Homo sapiens: one gene and its partner. The protein of the gene in region 1 purifies or fractionates together with the protein of each later gene. This does not show direct contact. Each region holds a gene or a part of one and is shown on either strand. Other genes may lie near its edges. The genes, in order: DUXB and YTHDF3.

The links.
Region 2: the proteins of DUXB (region 1) and YTHDF3 purify together in Homo sapiens (affinity purification with mass spectrometry, with the first as the bait; one large-scale study listed by BioGRID). This does not show direct contact.

What each region holds. Positions count from the first base shown.
Region 1 is NC_000016.10:75,698,521-75,703,053, forward strand, and holds the start of DUXB (double homeobox protein B), read right to left. Parts: upstream 2,942-4,533; 5' UTR 2,899-2,941; coding exon 2,874-2,898; intron 1,650-2,873; coding exon 1,495-1,649; intron 1-1,494.
Region 2 is NC_000008.11:63,185,612-63,189,434, forward strand, and holds part of YTHDF3 (YTH domain-containing family protein 3), read left to right. Parts: intron 1-535; coding exon 536-2,134; intron 2,135-3,823. UniProt on the Homo sapiens protein: Specifically recognizes and binds N6-methyladenosine (m6A)-containing RNAs, and regulates their stability. M6A is a modification present at internal sites of mRNAs and some non-coding RNAs and plays a role in mRNA stability and processing.

The DNA of each region.
Region 1 (4,533 bases):
TTTCTTTATTTGAGACAAAGTCTTGCTATGTTGTCCAGGTTGGAGTGCAGTGGCTATTCACAGGCATGATCCCACTACTGGTCAGCATGAGAGTTTTGATCTGCTTTGTTTCTGACCTGAGCTGGCTCACTCCTCCTTAGGCACCCTGGCGGTCCCCAGCTCTTGGGATGTCACCGTATTGATGCCAAACTTACTGCAGGCACTCAATCCACACAACACAGGCACAGTATAGCACAGAATGCCTGGGCTCAAACGATTCTCCTGCCTCAACCTCCTAAGTAGCTGGGAGTACAGGTGCACACCACCATGAGAAGGAATCACAGATAACTTCTTTTTTTTGGTAGACATGGTCTCGCTCTGTCTGCCAGGCTGAAGTGCAGTGGTGCAATCACGGCTTACTGCAGCCTTGACCTCCTGGGCTCAAATGATCCTTCCACCTAAGCCCCTGAGTAGCTGGGACTGCAGGTGTGGAACAACAAACCCAGCAAATTAAAATACATGTTTTTGGAGAGATGGGGTTTTACTGTGTTGTCCAGGCTGATCTTGAACTCCTGGCCTCAAGTGATCTTCCACTCTCAGCCTCTGAAAATGTTGGGATTACAGGTGTGGGTCACCCTACCCAGTCCAGGTATCTTTCTGATAACTGGAGAGATTTAACTTAAGTTTCATTTTATGTCAGTTATTCTATTTAAAATAATTCAGTATGGAATTTTATTTCAAACGCTATGTGTATGAATCACATTTGAGACATTAAATTAAGAAATAGCCTGAGACTTCGGAATGCACATGCATTCTTACCCCAGTTTCCTTGTAATTACATATTAATAATCGATCTGAATATTCTAATACTAAAATATAGGACATAATTATCATGGTGATTTCATTTCCTATATTCTCTAAATCTCAAAATATGACTTAATTACCTATTGGGAGAGACTGAGCCAGTATATTCTCCTTCCCCATTAGTGAATACAAATGATATTTCCACCTTTGGTAAAATACATAAACCGCATCCTTGTTTTTATTTGTTTTCTTTTCTTTTCTTTTTTTTTTTTTTGAGACGGAGTCTCGCTTTGTCTTCCATCCTGGAATGCAGTGGTGTGATCTCTGCTCACTGCAAGCTCCCCTCCCGGGTTCACGCCATTCTCCTGCCTCAGCCTCCAGAGTAGCTGGGACTACAGGCGACTGCCACCACGCCCGGCTAATTTTTTTTTGTATTTTTAGTAGAGAGAGGGTTTCACCATGTTAGCCAGGATGGTCTCCATCTCCTGACCTCGTCATCCGCCTGCCTTGGCCTCCCAAAGTGCTGGGATTACAGGCGTGAGCCACCGCGCCCAGCCTTTTTATTTGTTTTCTAATTTTGTAGAACAGGAAAACGTTTCTTAGCAAAATACCTGATATAACCTGATATAAGAGAATTGGCAAAAGCGCTGGGCCTAGTCTTTCTCTTTACCATGGTTCTGACAGGTAATGAAGTAGAAATCTAATGCCTACCTGAATATTAGATTCTGGAACCCCAATTTCTTTGGCCAGTTGTTCTCTGGCAGCTTTATCAGGGAAAGGGTCATGTTGAAACCATGATTGGAGGATATCCTTTTGACTCTGGTTATACTGAATTCTGTTTCTCCAGAATTCTTTTTGAAGTATGCCTGATGAACAGAAAAGGGGGAGAATAGTGTGAATAATATATTTATGGGTTTAAATCTGTACTTTGATTAAATTAATTTATTTTGAGACAGAGTCTCACTCTGTCGCCCAGATTGGAGTGCAGTGATGCAGTTTCGGGTCAATGCGACCTCCGCTCCTGGGTTCAAGCGATTCTTAAGCCTCAGCCTCCGGAATAGCTGGGACTACAGGTATGCACCACTGTGCCTGGCTATTTTTTTTTCTTTGTAGAGATGAGGTCTCATTATCTTGCCCAGGCTGGCCTCGAACTCCTGGGTTCAATTGATCCTCCTGTCCTGGCCTCCCCATTTTGTTAATTATTATTATTATTATTATTGTTACTATTTTTTGAGATGGAGTCTCGATCTGTTGCCTAGGCTGGAGTGCAGTGGTACCATGTCAGCTCACTGCAAGCTCTGCCTCCCGGGTTCACGCCATTCTCCCCGGTCAGCCTCCTAAGTAGCTGGGGTGCCACCACACCTGGCTAATTTTTTGTATTTTTTAGTAGAGACAGGGTTTCACCGTGTTAGCCAGGATGGTCTCGATCTCCTGACCTCGTGATCTGCCCACCTCGGCCTCCCAAAGTGCTGGGATTACAGGAGTGAGCCACCGCACCCGTACTGTTAATTATTACTCTGTATTTTTACTTTAGGCATAGAGCTAAAGTCATGCTAAATTGGGTATATAAACATTTAAATATATATATTAGAAAACGATAATCAATGACCTAAGTTTCCAAAGAGAGAACTTACGGAAAATGTACAAAATTACCAAAAGAGGAAGCAGTAGGGAGGAGGAAAATTAACAAAAATCAATGAAAAAAGTGAAACTCATGGAACAATTGAACAGGTGAAATAAGACACACAGGAACTGGTACTTCTAATGACAAAGAATATATCTCAGTAAAATTCAGTAGGCTGCATTAGACAGTTCATACATTCTCCCCTCCACATAAACTGTCAACTTTAAAACTTTAGGTAGATGACCCTTGTATGGGACTCATGGCTGCCATCTTACATTTCAAATTCAAGAGTCCAACTTCAAAGCACCCATGGCTGTTCTGACACAATTTATCAGCGAAAAACAGCTGCTGCTCTACCAGTCTGTACCTCTAATCATGTTTGTGCTATAAACTTTGACAAACTCTGAAAAATAAGCAAGACATGCAGCAATCCCAAAGAACAGAGAAAAGGCTGATGGGAACTTACCACCTGAAGTGCCCTCCAAATTCATCTTGGGCAGAAGACCTGGACTCCACGGAGATCAGCGAGTAACTGAGCAGCTCTCAAAGACACAGGCTTTATATAGGGTCAAGGTGACCCGCCCCTTTCTTAAATAGCTTTCAATTTAATCCCCTCATTAAATATTTAACACCTGTAGAAAGAAACTTGAAGTAATTAGATTAAGTGGAAGTACAGATTCTACGTGGTGATTTTGTCTTCTTCATAATACCTTTCTAAATATGACTCTTGTTTAATTATTTCAGTTTGGCCATATTAGTTTCTACATTATAAGAATGTCCTTACCTTACTTTGCATTTTTTGTTTTCCTCGGCTCTTCTGAAACTCATGTCTTTTCAGCATTGCGATGGTGCTATCTGTGTGTCAACTTGGCTGCTCTACGCTCCCTATTTTTTCAATAAAACACGAATCTAAGCATTGCGATGAAGGTATTTTGCAGACGTGATTGGGTTATATAATCAGTTGGCTTTCAGTAAATGAGATTATCCTGGATAATCTGGGTGGGTTATTTTCTATCAGTTAAAGGTCAATCAGTTAAAGAGCAAAGCTGAGGTTGCCCTGGAGGGTGGGGGTGGTGGAAATCACATCTTGGGAGGGTGGGGGTGGTGGAAATCACATCTAGCTGGGGGTGGTGACTCAAGCCTGGAATCCCAGCACTTTGGGAGGCTGAGGCAGCAGGATCGCTTGAGCCCAGGAGTTAAATTTCAGCCTGGGAAACGCAGGAAGACCTTATTTATGTAAAAATTTAAAAAAATTCCGTAAGTGCTCAGCTGCTTCATCTGCTGTTTTAGGAGTTTCCACCTGCTTTTCTGAAGGGCCTACCCTACAGAATTTATTCCTGCCTACCCAGACCCTACAATTATAGAAGTGAGTTTTGTATTGCTGTGGCCTGAATGTTTATGTAGCCTCAAAATTCATATGTCGAAATCTTCACCACCAAGGTAATGGTATTAGGAGGTGGGGCCTTTGGATAGTGACTAAGTCATGAGGGTGGAGTCCTCATGAAGGGGATTAGTGTCTTTATCAAAGAGAGCAGACAGGGAGGGAGAGAGGGAGATCCCTGTGATCCTTCTGCCACGTGAGGTTAGAGTGAGAAAATGACTGTCTACTAGGAAGTGGGTCCTCACCAGACACCTAACCTGATTGTACTTCCCAGTCTCCAGAACTATGAGAAATAAATTTCTGTTGTTGATAAGCTAGCCAGTCTATGGTATTTTGTTATAGCAGCCTGAATGGACTAAGGCATATATATGTCTTTATATATATATATGTACAAGTGTGTATGTGTATAGATACCTATATATTTATAATATAAACACACACAGGCATACACACATATATTATATATAGTTCACTAGTTAATAGCTGACCTCGGAACACTACTGATTGTTTCTCTGATGGAACCCTGAATGATACAGATGTTGATGTGCCCAAAATCATAATTACTGTCATGCGCATCCGTGTGAAGAGACCACCAAGCAGGCTTTGTGTGAGCAACAAGGCTGTTTATTTCACCTGGGTGCAGGTGGGCTGAGTCTGAAAAGAGAGTGAGCAAAGGGTGGTGGGATTATCGTTAGTTCTTATAGGTTTTGGGATAGGCGGTGGATTAGGAGAAATGTTTTGTGGG
Region 2 (3,823 bases), on another chromosome or scaffold:
ACTGTGAGCATTTCTCCATTTTTTCCTTAATGAAAGTACAAAATCTAATGGTTGAACTGGATTCCATCATATAGATAAGCTGTAATTCCTCTATTATTCGGCAGAGTTGTCTAGTTTATTTAATCCTTGTGTGTAAGTGATTGCATACATCAATTGATTAAAGTACAGCTGGCTGTAAATGGTAATTTTGTGTCCACAAAGTTTATATATTAGCCTTTTGTAGAAATTATGATATTTTTAAATTGTGACAGAGGGCCTGGCTCTTCAAACAAAAATAATACTCATTATACCCCCACTCTCATCCCTGAAAAAAGCCATATAGGTTAGTTTGTAAGAAATATTTTAAGATGTGACTACTCATCAGCAAATTTTTCTGTTGATAAAACTGGATTTGAAATTTTAATTTTGTTTATCTAGAATAGGTACATCTTTTATTTTCATTTACTTAAAACTTCTTGATTTTAATCTTTCAGATTTCTTTTTTTGCTCTTTTAAGAGGACATTTCGCTACTGATTGTGATATTTTGTTTTGCAGAGTAACAGCTATCCACCAATGTCAGATCCATACATGCCTAGTTACTATGCTCCATCCATTGGATTTCCATATTCTCTTGGGGAAGCAGCGTGGTCCACAGCTGGAGACCAGCCTATGCCATATCTGACAACCTATGGACAAATGAGTAATGGAGAACATCACTATATACCAGATGGTGTATTTAGTCAACCTGGGGCATTAGGAAATACCCCTCCATTTCTTGGTCAACATGGATTTAACTTTTTTCCTGGTAATGCTGATTTCTCTACATGGGGGACAAGTGGATCTCAGGGACAATCAACACAAAGTTCTGCTTATAGTAGCAGTTATGGCTATCCACCTAGTTCTCTTGGGAGAGCTATTACTGATGGACAGGCTGGATTTGGCAATGATACTTTGAGTAAGGTGCCTGGCATTAGCAGTATTGAGCAAGGCATGACTGGACTGAAAATTGGTGGTGACCTGACAGCTGCAGTGACAAAAACTGTAGGTACAGCTTTGAGCAGCAGTGGTATGACTAGCATTGCAACCAATAGTGTGCCCCCAGTTAGCAGTGCAGCACCTAAACCAACCTCCTGGGCTGCCATTGCCAGAAAGCCTGCCAAACCTCAACCGAAACTTAAACCCAAGGGCAATGTGGGAATTGGGGGTTCTGCTGTACCACCACCTCCTATAAAACACAACATGAATATTGGAACTTGGGATGAAAAAGGGTCAGTGGTAAAGGCTCCACCAACCCAACCAGTTCTGCCTCCTCAAACTATAATCCAGCAGCCTCAGCCATTAATTCAACCACCACCATTGGTGCAAAGCCAACTGCCTCAACAGCAGCCTCAACCACCACAACCACAGCAGCAACAAGGACCTCAGCCACAGGCCCAGCCTCACCAAGTGCAGCCTCAACAGCAGCAGCTGCAGAATCGCTGGGTAGCTCCTCGTAACAGGGGAGCAGGCTTCAACCAGAACAATGGAGCGGGCAGTGAAAACTTTGGTTTAGGTGTTGTACCTGTCAGTGCTTCACCTTCTAGTGTAGAAGTGCATCCCGTGCTGGAAAAGCTAAAGGCCATAAACAACTATAATCCCAAAGACTTTGATTGGAATCTGAAGAATGGACGTGTGTTTATAATTAAAAGCTACTCTGAGGATGACATACATCGTTCCATTAAATACTCTATCTGGTGTAGTACTGAGCATGGTAATAAGCGTTTGGATGCAGCTTACCGTTCCCTGAATGGGAAAGGCCCACTCTATTTACTCTTCAGTGTGAATGGCAGTGGACATTTTTGTGGAGTGGCTGAAATGAAGTCTGTTGTGGACTATAATGCGTATGCTGGTGTCTGGTCTCAGGATAAGTGGAAGGGCAAATTTGAAGTTAAATGGATCTTTGTCAAAGATGTTCCCAATAACCAATTACGGCATATTCGCTTAGAAAATAATGACAACAAACCGGTTACCAATTCAAGGGACACTCAAGAGGTACCCCTAGAAAAAGCTAAGCAAGTGCTTAAAATAATTGCTACTTTCAAGCATACCACCTCAATCTTTGATGACTTTGCACATTATGAAAAGCGTCAAGAAGAGGAGGAAGCCATGCGTAGGGTAAGAATATAGTAATTTTTTGTTTGGGGTCTTTGTATTGCTGGTGGGGTGCATGGATGGGTATATTCTGAGTTTAAGAACTTTCTGTGAAGGAAACCAACTACTTAAGAAACAACTCTACAAACACCCTTGAAGGTATCTATGTGTGTCCTATATGAACCATTTCTTCTTTCCTTTCCCAGGGTAACTCACGCTGAGTTAGCCTCTTGCTCATTCTTCATACTCCCTAGATGATAAAGGCCATTGGGCCTCAGTGTTTATCATCAAAGCTGAATGAATTTTGGCATTTGTAACTAAACAGACTTCATGAACTAACCAGGGGCTCTAATCATTAATATTATTAATCATACTAACATAGGAGAAAATATATTTAGAGTTTGAAACAACTTTTTTTTTGAGATGACATCTTGCTGTGTTGCCCAGGCTGGAGTGCAGTGGCTATTCACAGGTGCAGTTATGGCGTATAGCCTCAAGTTCCTGGCCCCAAGCAATCCTCCTGCCTTAGACTCCCAAGTAGCTGGGACTACAGACCTGTACCACTGAACCTGGCACTTAAAACAAGTTTTTATTTATTTATATTTTATATATTATTTAATTTTTTTTCAGACAGGGTCTCTCTTGTCCCGGCAGGAGTGTACTGGCGTGAACATGGCTCACTGCAGCCTTGATCTGCTGGGCTCAAGTGATCCTCCTACCTCAGCTTCCCGAGTAGCTGGGACTACGGTCACACACCACCACGCCTGGCTAATTTTTGTATTTATTGTAGATAGAGGGTTTCACCATGTTGCCCGGGCTGGTCTCCTGAGCTCAAAGGATCTGCCCCTACCCCTCTGCCTCCCAAAATGTTGGGATTACAGTCCTGAGTCACTGCACCCAGCTGAAACAACTTTTAAATAAATGTTTTACTCTAATTTTGTGTTTATAAGAAATTACATATATATATATATATATATATATTTTTTTTTTTTTTTTTTTTTTTCTTTTGTGAGATGGAGTCGCTCTCTGTCGCCCAGGCTGGAGTGCAATGGAGTGGTCTTGGCTCACTGCAACGTCCGCCTCCCGGATTCAAGTGATTCTCTTGCCTCAGCCTCCCGAGTAGCTGGGATTACAGGCACACGCCACCATGCCTGCCAAATTTTTGTATTTTTAATAGAGACGAGTTTCACCATGTTGGCCAGGCTGGTCTTGAACTGCTGACCTCGTGATCCGTGCGCCTCGGCCTCCCAAAGTGCTGGGATTACAGGCATGAGCCACTGTGCCTGGCAAAATATGTTTTTAAAACATAAAACTCTTGAAGTATTTTTATAATTTTTATACTTAAAGCACTTGTACAAAATAGAGGCTTTGCAGAATTTGATTCCTAATTCTGTTATATACCCTCTGTAAGATTGAGGGAGACATTCCTGAAATAAAACATGCTGTTTATCCTTGTATTATATTGGCCAGAATATTTTTATTTTTATTTTTTAAAAATATCCTATTGAGTGGCCCATATGGGGATTAGCCCCCCAAATATTGGCTAGACTTTGATCACAGGGCCACAAGAGTCAGTTCAACTAGGGAAAGTTTTCTCTTCCAAACTGTAACGTAAAATTGGGGTCCTATTTTTAGGTGGAAAGAGAAAATGGATGGGCTTTTCTATAGGGGATACATTTAAATTTCTTTTGAAACTTAGTAGGGGTAAAGTTA